Linked DNA regions of Homo sapiens. The protein of the gene in region 1 purifies or fractionates together with the protein of each later gene. This does not show direct contact. Each region holds a gene or a part of one and is shown in the gene's direction. Other genes may lie near its edges. The genes, in order: SLC25A16, ETFDH and DHODH.

Region 1 (3,500 bases):
TAGCTGGGACTGCAGGCACGTGCCACCATGCCGGCTAATTTTTTGTAGTTTTAGTGGAGACGGGGTTTCACCATGTTAGCCAGGATGGTCTCGATCTCCTGACCTTGCGATCTGCCCGCCTCAACGTCCCAAAATGCTGGGATTACAGATGTGAGGCACCATGCCTGGCCCTTCGCCTGGCTAATTTTTGTATTTTTTTTTTTTTTTTTTTGAGACAGAGTTTTGCTCTTGTTGCCCAGGCTGGAGTGTAATGGTGCAATTGTGAATCACTGCAACCTCTGCCTCCTGGATTCAAGCAATTCTCCTGCCTCAGCCTCCCGTGTAGCTGGGATTACAGGCATGTGCCACCAGGCCTAGCTAATTTTTGTATTTTTAGTAGAGATAGTGTTTCTCCATGTTGGTCAGGCTGGTTTCGAACTTCTGACCTCAGGTGATCTGCCTGCCTCGGACTTCCAAAGTGCTGGGATTACAGGTGTGGGCCACTGCGCCTGGCCTAATTTTTGTATTTTTAGTAGAGACGGGGTTTCACCAAGTTGGCCAGGCTGGTCTTGAAATCCTGACCTCAAGTGATCCTCCCACCTAGGCCTCCCAAAATGCTGGGATTATAGGCATGAGCCATTGTGCCCGGGTCAATTGTTTATTTACAGATTGTCTATCTAATATTTTTTGAACATGGATGACTGGTGGTAACTAAAACTGCAGAAAGTGAAATTGCAGATAAGGGGGGACTATCGTAGTGTGAAAGCAAGTTAAGATACTATTAAATAGGCTGGGTGCGGTGGCTCATGCCTGTAATCCCAGTACTTTGGGAGGTAGAGGCGGGTGGATGACGAGATCAGGAGTTCAAGAACAGTCTGGCCAACATGGTGAAACCCTCTCTCTACTAAAGACTAAAAAAAGAAAAAATTAGCTGGGCGAGGTGGTGGGTTCCTGTAATCCCACCTACTCGGGAGGCTGGGGCAGGAGAATCGCTTGAACCTGGGAGGTGAAGGTTGTAGTGAGCCGAGATCGCACCATTGCACTCCAGCCCTGGAAAAAAAAAAAAAAAGATACTATTATATAAAAGTACTTATTGAATACATTCTAAACAATTTCTCTCTTTTTTTTTGAGACGGAGTTTCGTTCTTGTCGCCCAGGCTGGAGTGCAGTGACATGATCTCGGCTCACTGCCACCTATGCCTCCCGGGTTCAAGCGATTCTCCTGCCCCAGCTTTCCAAGTATCTGGGATTATAAGCATGTGCCACCACACCTGGCTAATTTTTGTATTTTTAGAAGAGATGGGGTTTCACCATGTTGGCTAGGCTGGTCTCGAACTCCTGACCTCAGATGATCTGCCCACCTCGGCCTCCCAAAGTGCTGGGAATACAGGCGAGAGCCACTGCACCTGGCCTAAATAATTCATTATACAGTTAATTCATACACAACTGAGAAGATAATATAAAATATTCTGAAACCAAATGTATCCAAATGCATATTATTTTTAGTTTACCCATAATTTTGGATAGCTATGATTATGATTTACTTTTTTTTTTTTTTTGAGATGGAGTCTCACTCTGTCACCCAGGCTGGAGTGCAGTGGCACAATCTCAGCTCACTGAGACCTCTGCCTCCCGGGTTCAGGCAATTCTCTGCCTCAGCCTCCCGAGTAGCTGGGATTACAGGTGTCCGCTACCACACCTGGCTAATTTTTGTATTTTTAGTAGAGACAAGGTTTCACCATCTTGGCCAGGCTGGTCTTGAACTCCTGACCTCGTGATCCACCCACCTCGGCCTCCCAAAGTGCTGGGATTACAGGCATGAGCCACTGCGCCCAGCCTTTTTTTGTTTTTTGAGACGGAGTTTCATTCTTGTTGCCCAGGCTAGAGTGCAATGGTGTGATCTCGGCTCACCACAACCTCTGCCTCCCAAGTTCAAGTGATTCTCCTGCCTCAGCCTCCCAAGTAGCTGGGATTACAGGCACACGTCATCACACCCAGCTAATTTTGTATTTTTAGTAGAGACAGGGTTTCTCCATGTTGGTCGGGCTGGTCTCAAACTCCCGACCTCAGGTGATCCGCCCACCTCGGCCTCCCAAAGCGCTGGGATTACAGGTATGAGTCACCATACCTGGCCAACTATTATTTTCATTAGTTCGGATAAGAGAGCTTTGATATGGAAACATAGTGGATATAATATCTGAGTAAAAAATACATTTTATTTATTTATTTATTTAATTTATTTATTTATTTATTTATTTTATTTGTTTTTTTGAGACCGAGACCTGCTCTGTTGCTCGGGCTGGAGTGCAGTGGTGCGATCTCGGCTCACTATTACCTCTGCCTCCTGGGTTCATGCAATTCTTCTGCCTCAGCCTCCCAAGCAGCTGGGATTACATGCACGCACCACCATGCCCAGCTAATTTTTGTGTTTTTAGTAGAGATGGGATTTTACCATGTTGGCCAGGCTGGTCTTGAATTCCTGACCTCGTGATCTGCCCGCCTCGGCCTCCCAAAGTGCTGCGATTACAGGCATGAGCCACGGCTCCCAGCCACAATTTATTTTTGGATATCTCAGAATATGGATTTTTAAAATTAAAATTTTATTTGTGTTTTCTTTTTTTTTCTTTTTTTAAGACATAGTCTCTGTAACCCAGGCTGGAGTGCAATGGTGTGATCTCAGCTCACTGCAACCTCCACCTTTTGGGTTCAAGAGATTCTTCTTCCTCGGCCTCCCCAGTAGTTGGGATTACAGGCAGCCGCCACCATGCCCGGCTAATTTTTTTATTTTTAGTAGAAATGGGGTTTCACCATATTGGCCAGGCTGGTTTCAAACTCCTGACCTCAAGTGATCTGCCTGCCTCGGCCTCCCAAATTGCTGGGATTACAGGCGTGAGCCACCGTGCCCGGACTTGTTGTTTTTTAAAGACCAGGTGTTGCTGTGTTATCTAGGCTGGAGCGAAGCCGCACAATTATAGCTCTCCGTGACCTCCAACTGTTGGCTCACGTCATCCTCCAGCCTTAGTCTCTGAGTACTGAGGCACACCACCATGCCTTGCTAATTTTTTTTTTTCTTTGAGATGGAGTCTCGCTTTGTCGCCCAGGCTAGAGTGCAATGGTGTGATCTCGGCTCACTGCAACCTCGGCCTCCTGGGTTCAAGGGATTCTCCTGCCTTAACCTCCCAAATAGCTGGGACTACAGGCGCCTGCCACCATGCCTTGCTAATTTTTTTGTATATTTGATAGAGACGGGGTTTCACCATGTTGGCCAGGCTGGTGTCGAGCTCCTGACCTCAGGAGATCTGCCCGCCCCGAGCTGCCAAAGTGCTGGGATTGCAGGCATGAAGCACTGCGCCCAGCCGATTTTAAAAAATTTTTTGTAGAGATGAGGTCTCACTGTGTTTCCCAGGCTGGTCTCAAACTCCTAGTCTCAAGTAATTTTTCTACCTCAGCCTCCGAAAGTGCTGGGATTACAGGTGCGAGCTACTGTGCCTGGCCTGTTATTCACCTTTTTATAAAAGGAG
Region 2 (3,727 bases), on another chromosome or scaffold:
GCACATGAAAAGGACATCCGTGTGTGTCTAGTGGAGAAAGCTGCCCAGATAGGAGCTCATACTCTCTCAGGGGCTTGCCTTGATCCAGGTGCTTTTAAAGAACTCTTCCCAGACTGGAAAGAGAAGGGGGTATGAAAAATTGTTTTTTATACAAAGTCTAATCTTTTGTAATTGTATTTCAGTAATTGTTCCCAAATTACTGGAATATAGGAAACCCTTTTCATGTAACTCTATCTTTTTTTTTTTTCTTTTTTTGAGATGGAGTTTCACTCTTGTTGCCCAGGCTGGAGTGCAATGGCGCGATCTTGGCTCACTGCAACCTCCACCTCCCAGGTTCAAGTGATTCTCCTGCCTCAGTCTCCCTAGTAGCTGGGTTTACAAGCACCTGCCAACACTCCCAGCTAATTTTTTGTATTTTTAGTAGAGACAGGGTTTCACTGTATTGGCCAGACTGGTCTCGAACTCCTGACCTCAGGCGATCCACCCACCTTGGCCTCCCAAAGCACTGGGATTACAGGCATGAGCCACCACGCCCAGCCCATGTAACTCTAAGGGAATAATTATATACTTTTTAAATTAAAAAAAAATTTATATCAGAATTGTAATTTATGATATTAACAAATATTTTTGTGTAATGCTTTCTACATGTATTTATGTAATGGGTATATGAGAAGATAACTTGAGAAGACCTTTGAATATTTCTTGGGAGGCATTTTGTATTTTGAGGGTATTTTTAAACTTGTTCTTTAAGTCTTTGTATGATTGTTCTTAATAAAGTAATAATTCCTGGGACAATGCAATATCTAAAGCCAAAGAGGATAACCTAATTTTCTGAAGAAACATATTAATATGGCTTCCCATAACCTAAGCAGAAAAACCACAGGTGTGATATACAGAGGACCAAGTCCAAGTTTTATTGTCTTAAATAAAATTTGTATGAATTTGGTTAAAATCTTAGATTGTCAATTTTTTCTTCTCTAAGATGGGTTATATTATACCTGTCCTACCTCCTAGATTAGATTATTCAGTGGTTGTGAATATACTTGCAAAGATCAAAAATTATATAAATATCTGTATTTTTTCCATATGGAATAAATTGAATTCCAAAAATTTCGTCTGTCTCTCCTTTCTGAAATATCAAGCTCCCTTAAACTAGAAATACTTTAATTAGGCCCAGTTGAATTTATCCTTTTGATATTATATCAGAAATGGATATTATTGAATTAACACTGACATAATATCAATTCTAATAGAAAATGTTTTTCATGTTAAAGCCCTTTATTGCTTTGGCACCTTTTTTTTGAGACAGGGTCTCACTCTGTCACCCAGGCTGGAGTACAGTGGCACAATCATGGCTCTCTGCAGCCTCAACCTCCGGGGCTCAAGTAATCCTCCCACCTCAGCCCCCTTAGTAGCTGGGATTACAGGCGTGCACCACCACACCCAGCTAATTTTTGTATTTTTTTAGTACAGACAGGATTTTTGCCATGTGGGCTCAAAACCACTAGCTTCGGCCTCCCAAATTGCTGGGACTACAGGCCTGTGAGCCACCACACAGACTTTGGTGCCTTTTAATATGTATAGCCAGCAGGTACAGTGTAACAACATGTTAATTCTCTTTATCCAAGAGGAAAATAAAACTTCTCTTACCTTTCACCAACCAGGAAGTTTCAACTTAAGAGCCAAGCAACTTGGCTAACCTCTCCACAGAGACAAAAAGACATGAGGGTCACGTTTCAAAGGTGTTTCCAAGACTCCCAAGAAATATATTCCTGGGATGCAAAACTGGCAAGAGGTTTATTTAGATTTTTAAAAGATTCCCAGCTGGCCGGGCGTGTAATCCCAACACTTTGGGAGGCCAAGGCGGATGGATGACTTGAGGTCAGGAGTTCGAGACCAGCCTGGCCAACATGGTAAAACCCCCTCTCTACTAAAAATACAAAAATTAGCCCAGCATGGTGGCAGGTGCCTATAAGCCCAGCCACTTGGGAGGCTGAGGCAGGAGAAACACTTGAACCCAGGAGGCAGAGGCTACAGTGAGCTGAGATTGCACCACTGCACTCCAGCCTGGGTGACAGAAAGAGACACTGTCTCAAAAAAAAAAAAAAAAAAGATTTCTGTACATCTCAGACAGAGAAAGGATTCACAGTGACAAGTTTTATAAAGGAAATGCCAAAAGAAAATTAGGGGGGAGTTCTTTTTTTGTCATCAGAGTACATTTTATAGTTTTTTTGTATTTATATTTACACTTGCAAATATAAACTAAAAACATTTCTTTTTCTTCTTTTATTTCTAGGCTCCACTTAACACTCCTGTAACAGAAGACAGATTTGGAATTTTAACAGAGAAATACAGAATTCCTGTGCCAATTCTTCCAGGTAAGGTATAGTGAATATGCATAGAACTATGGAATTCCACAGCTGGAAGGAACTACATTTCATCTGACGAAATTTCCTCCTTTTACAGACAAGAACTGAGACCCAGATATTTGAAGGACTTACTCAAAGCTATACAGCTAGCTGGTGGGAAAGCAGGACTAGAACTCAGTTCTTTTGTCTTCCAGTCTAGAAGAATTGAGATAGCCTTGTAAGCCAAGCAGGAATTTCTAACTTAGTGCTTTAATGTTGTTTGTAATGTAATAAATTAGAACTCTAGACCAAAATTGTAGAAAATAAGTTGAAAGTGTGACCATCAATGTAGCACTTATGTAGAAATACATATTGATTCGAAATTTTAAAGTATTTATGTTTTTGTAATGTCTTATCAATAAAAAGTCAGATTTATAAATTAAGCATATATTTATAGGGCTTCCAATGAATAATCATGGCAATTACATTGTACGCTTGGGACATTTAGTGAGCTGGATGGGCGAACAAGCAGAAGCCCTTGGTGTTGAAGTATACCCTGGTTATGCAGCTGCTGAGGTTTGTATAGTTTTGTTTTGTTTTAATATTTATAGGAACTCTCTTTTTTTAATAAGTGGAGAATTTTATAAAGTTGAAGAAATAAATATTTTTTAAAAGCCATGGGATTTTAGAATTATAAGATTAGAAGGAATCTTTAAAGTATCTAATCCAAAGAGTACTTGAATTCCTCATGTTGTACCCCCATCAAGTGATTATCCAACTTATGATTGATCACCATAAGGGATGAAAAATTGTAGATTGTTGGTAATCTCTTCCTTATTTTGAACAGAACTTACCTATGGTTTTATACTATCCAGAACAAATCTATGCCCTCTTCCAAGGACAACTTTCTAATTATAATTATTCCCTGCTCTCTCTTCCTCCCTATCTTTACTCTGGAATTTTTTTTTATTTCCCAGTATAGGGGTGGTATAGGAGTTAAGGGAAAGGTTTGTCTCTGCCCTCTGAAGGTTCACCAGAAATGAACTGACAATAGACAGAGTAATAGGAGAAGAAGCATAGAGATTTATTTAACATGCATAAGCACAAGAGAATGATGACCCGATAACCCAGTGAGGTCCAAATGCTTATCTACCTTTCAGCAGAAGGGAAGGGGAAATTGGGTGTTTAGCAATCTTGAAAGGAAGTGAATGATTTTTAGGGAAAATGAATGCACCCAAGACACAGAAATTAACTTGTAAATGATTCTCTTTGGAATTTGAATGAGCCTGAGAGGCAGGCATGATCTTATGAAAAAGTGTTTGTCTAGGTGTAGTTGCTTTTTTCTGTTTTCTTTTCTGCAATAGATATTAACAATAAGA
Region 3 (3,727 bases), on another chromosome or scaffold:
GTGTGCATTTTACTTCCAGCACCTCTCCCTTTGGACCAGCTGCATTCCCAGCAGCCAGTAGCCACATGCGGCCAGCAGGCTTGTATTGGCTAGCACAGCCCCAGCCTTTAGCAAACAGGGAAATGTAATATTCAACATGCACAGCTGCTCTTAGTAAGAGAAATCCTTCTAGACTGTATAAAGCCCTTCCCTTTGTCATCCCTGGGCAATTTTTACTACAGCAAACCCAAAAGGTGAAGAAGTGCTTACTTTTTGGTAAGAGGATTTTGAAGAGCCTCCTTGGGGAGATTTCGATGGGCATCTTTGGGGCCACTGGTGGCCTCCTGGGAGACGGACCTGTAGGACATTTACTTGGCCGTGCTTCCTGCTTTCTTGTGCTTGTTTCAGGGAAATTCTCCAGCATTAGAGATCAAGTTATTGATCTTTCTGCTGCATTGCAGGTGGGGATCAATATCTTCAGAATTGGCCAGGCAAAATATATTTGCTTAACATTCAGCTGCTACAGATAACTGCAGGTGCTGGGATGATGGTACTTGGTGAATCCTATAGGTGAGCAGGGGTGTGAGATCCTGCTCTGAGCCCTGTGTGTGCGGCCTCCTGGTTGTGTGGCATGTGGTAAGTGTGTAGTAAACACTTAATGAATGGGTGAAGTTATGAAGTCATCAGATATGTGTGCCAGTGTGTCTGTTATTATGGATGCTTTTGGCTCTAACAAAGTGGCTTAAACAACAGGCACATTTGATATTATTTTCTTCTCATAACAGGTGCAATGGGCAGGTCCAGGGTTGGTTGAGCACCAGGGCAGTGTTGAGACTCTGGTCCAACTTCTCTGGGCGTTTTCTTTTTGCTTGTCAGAGAGCGACCTCGGCTGCAAGTATTATGTTCTTACACGGACGCCCAAGAGCAGAAAGGAAAAAGGGCAGGGATGTTCTCAGAGGCTCCCAGTAGGTCTCACTTGTGTCTCAGTGTCTACACTTGGCATACACTTACGCTTCCCTTGCCAGCAAGGCTGGGAAAGGAGTCATTAGCATTTTTACCCTGTATCAGGGCAGGTGGGTTTCACTGGCAAAGAGGAAGAGGAAGGGGACTGGCCACTAGGTCAAAACCCACAGTGGGGCTGGGGATACAGGGATGAAAGAGAGATGAGGCTCCTGCCTTCAGGGAGTGTCTAGTGACAGTGACAGAGGGATGAGAGAAGTATGAGATGTTGCTCACCCTCAAGAAGATTGTAACCTAGGGACCTTAAGCATATATGTATGTATCTATCCCAAGCCAGGAGAAAGGTGGGGCCAAAGCTCTGTATGAAGGCCAGGGGGATGAGGGATCCTTTGCAGCTGCGAGCTCTGTGCAGGAGGAGAGGGAGCGTTTGCTCTGAGCTAGGAAGAGAGGTGATTTTCAGACAGAAAGCCTAGAGAGATGGAGTGGCTGCAGGGGCTTCAGGAGGCTGTTTGGGAGCCCAGGCAGAAGGTGGCAAGTGAGTGTGCAATTCTCAGAGAGTGGCTGGGTAAGGAGTGGGGATCCAGCAGGTCTGGGGCAGCTGCTGCTGAGTCTGGGCTGTTTCCAGTGCTAGCTGGCTGAGCATTTGCAAATTTTAATCTTTCCCTGGGTATTGGATGGTGTTCTGGCAAGTTCTCTAGGAGTCCCAGTGGTGTTTAGACCCTGGAAGTGTAAGAACTGACTGTGATTTTTTTTTTTCTCTTGTTTGAAAAAGTCCTAAGTGTATGGGAAGTGGCTATGGTGCCGTCTCACTCTGCCCCTCCCGTGTGCTTGTGCTCTGCAGGTATGGATTTAACAGTCACGGGCTTTCAGTGGTGGAACACAGGTTACGGGCCAGACAGCAGAAGCAGGCCAAGCTCACAGAAGGTAAAGTGGGGTTGTGTCAGTGGGCCTTTCTTATTTATTAGGAGGAAACGTGGGAGAAATGCTGGGAACATTTCTAGTGAAATAAACATGATTGAGCAATAGCAAAAACCACTGAGGACCTCAGGACACCTCTCCTAGAGCGATTTTCCTGGTCCCACACAGCTTCCAAGAGTTTAACTGGATTTTGCAATTTAGCAAATACTCACTTTGCCTCTGCCTTGTTATGTAACCTGTTACCGTAACTAGGGAGGCCTGAAAGCAAGCGAAGCAAAGCGGCTGGGCAATGATCACACAGGCAATGAGGGCAGGAGCAGGACTTGAATGTCATCCTCCCGTGGCCCACTCTGTCCTCCCTTTTTTGTCATCCATTGTGTAAATAATGTTCATTAATTATAGAAGACTTAGTAAATACAGAGAAGCGTAAAGAAAGAATGTTCAAGAAACAGATACTCCTCCCTACTCAAGGCTAACTAATATTAGCATTTGGGAAAATATTCTTCATGAGTTGTTTTGGAAACTCATTTTTGGTTCGGGACAGTTCACACCTGTAATCTCAATACTTTGGGTGCCCAAGTTGGGAGGATCACTTGAACTCAGGAGTTTAAGACCAGCCTGGGCAACATGGTGAGATCCCATTTCTCTAAAAAAACCAAAAACAACATGCTTTTTTTTTTTTTTTTTTGAGACGGAGTCTCGCTCTGTCGCCCCAGGCTAGAGTGCAGTGGCGGGATCTCGGCTCACTGCAAGCTCTGCTTCCCGCGTTCTCACTATTCTCCTGCCTCAGCCTCCCGAGTAGCTGGGACTTCAGGCACCCGCCGCCACACCCAGCTAATTTCTTTTTGTATTTTTAGTAGAGACGGGGTTTCACTGTGTTAGCCAGGATGGTCTCGATTTCCTGACCTGGTGATCCGCCTGCCTCGGCCTCCCAAAGTGCTGGGATTACAGGCGTGAGCCACCGCGCCTGGCCACAACATGCATTTTTGAAGACGCCTCCGGCGATGCGGGTGTTCTCTGTGGCCTCTGCCTCACTTGCTCTCAGGATGCACTTAGTGGTCGCAGCCCTCTGTTGTCCTGACCCTAATGCCCCTGGGACCCTCTGGGATTGTGTGGGGTTGTGGCTCAGTAGCGACCATTTTCTTCTTTGGGTCCCTCTGAAACTCCTTCCAGGATGTCTTAGTCTCAGATAGTCCTGGTAGCAGGATGAAGAAACCAATGGATATGGGATTCATTTCAGGAAGTGAGGTGGAAAGGGCTGAGGCACTCAGCAGTGTCAGATTTGGGGAATAGGAAATTATCTTTTGGAAACCCCTGGGTTGGGTGGAACCAGACCCCGCTGTACTGCAGAGCCGCCCACCTGGGGAGCTTTGGAGGTCATCACAGGACTTGCATGGTTTGTGATGCTTGCCCGCCTTCGTGCTTGCTTTTTCTTCTCCTCGGTGTCTGCAGTGCAGTGTCCTGGCTTTATCTCCTGTTCTTCCTCACCCAGCCCTCCCTCCCTGTGGCCCTCCTGGTCTACGGAGTGAAGCGGAGCCTGCAGCAGTGCTCTGCACGGATGTGTCTGCCAGCAGCTTAGGGGCCTTCATGGCAGCTTGTTGTTAGCACCATGCCAAGGAACACGCGTTGACAAAAGCTTTGGTGCCCTCTGGGGACAGAGTAATCCAGCAATTTCTGTCTAACTCCCAAATCTTGTCAGTTTGGGCAGATGACTCCTAATCCGTTAGCTACATGAAAGTGATATTCTCCTTCAAGTCAGTTTACTTGTGAGGAAAAGAATTCAAGCTTACAGATGATCTTGGCTTGATGGGTGCTAGACTGGGAAGCTTGGAGACCTTATGATAAACCTTTTGTCTAATTGGATTCTTTG

Evidence for each region.
Region 2: the proteins of SLC25A16 (region 1) and ETFDH purify together in Homo sapiens (affinity purification with mass spectrometry; one large-scale study listed by BioGRID and IntAct). This does not show direct contact.
Region 3: the proteins of SLC25A16 (region 1) and DHODH purify together in Homo sapiens (affinity purification with mass spectrometry; one large-scale study listed by BioGRID and IntAct). This does not show direct contact.

The regions. Positions count from the first base shown.
Region 1 is NC_000010.11:68,517,524-68,521,023, reverse strand, and holds part of SLC25A16 (solute carrier family 25 member 16), read left to right. Parts: intron 1-2,805; exon of another isoform or gene 2,806-3,500. UniProt on the Homo sapiens protein: May be involved in the transport of coenzyme A in the mitochondrial matrix. Very little is known about the physiological function of this carrier.
Region 2 is NC_000004.12:158,682,296-158,686,022, forward strand, and holds part of ETFDH (electron transfer flavoprotein-ubiquinone oxidoreductase, mitochondrial isoform 1 precursor), read left to right. Parts: coding exon 1-129; intron 130-2,296; coding exon 2,297-2,378; intron 2,379-2,805; coding exon 2,806-2,924; intron 2,925-3,727. UniProt on the Homo sapiens protein: Accepts electrons from ETF and reduces ubiquinone.
Region 3 is NC_000016.10:72,015,244-72,018,970, forward strand, and holds part of DHODH (dihydroorotate dehydrogenase (quinone), mitochondrial), read left to right. Parts: intron 1-487; exon of another isoform or gene 488-610; coding exon of another isoform or gene 611-615; intron 616-1,780; coding exon 1,781-1,863; intron 1,864-3,727. UniProt on the Homo sapiens protein: Catalyzes the conversion of dihydroorotate to orotate with quinone as electron acceptor. Required for UMP biosynthesis via de novo pathway.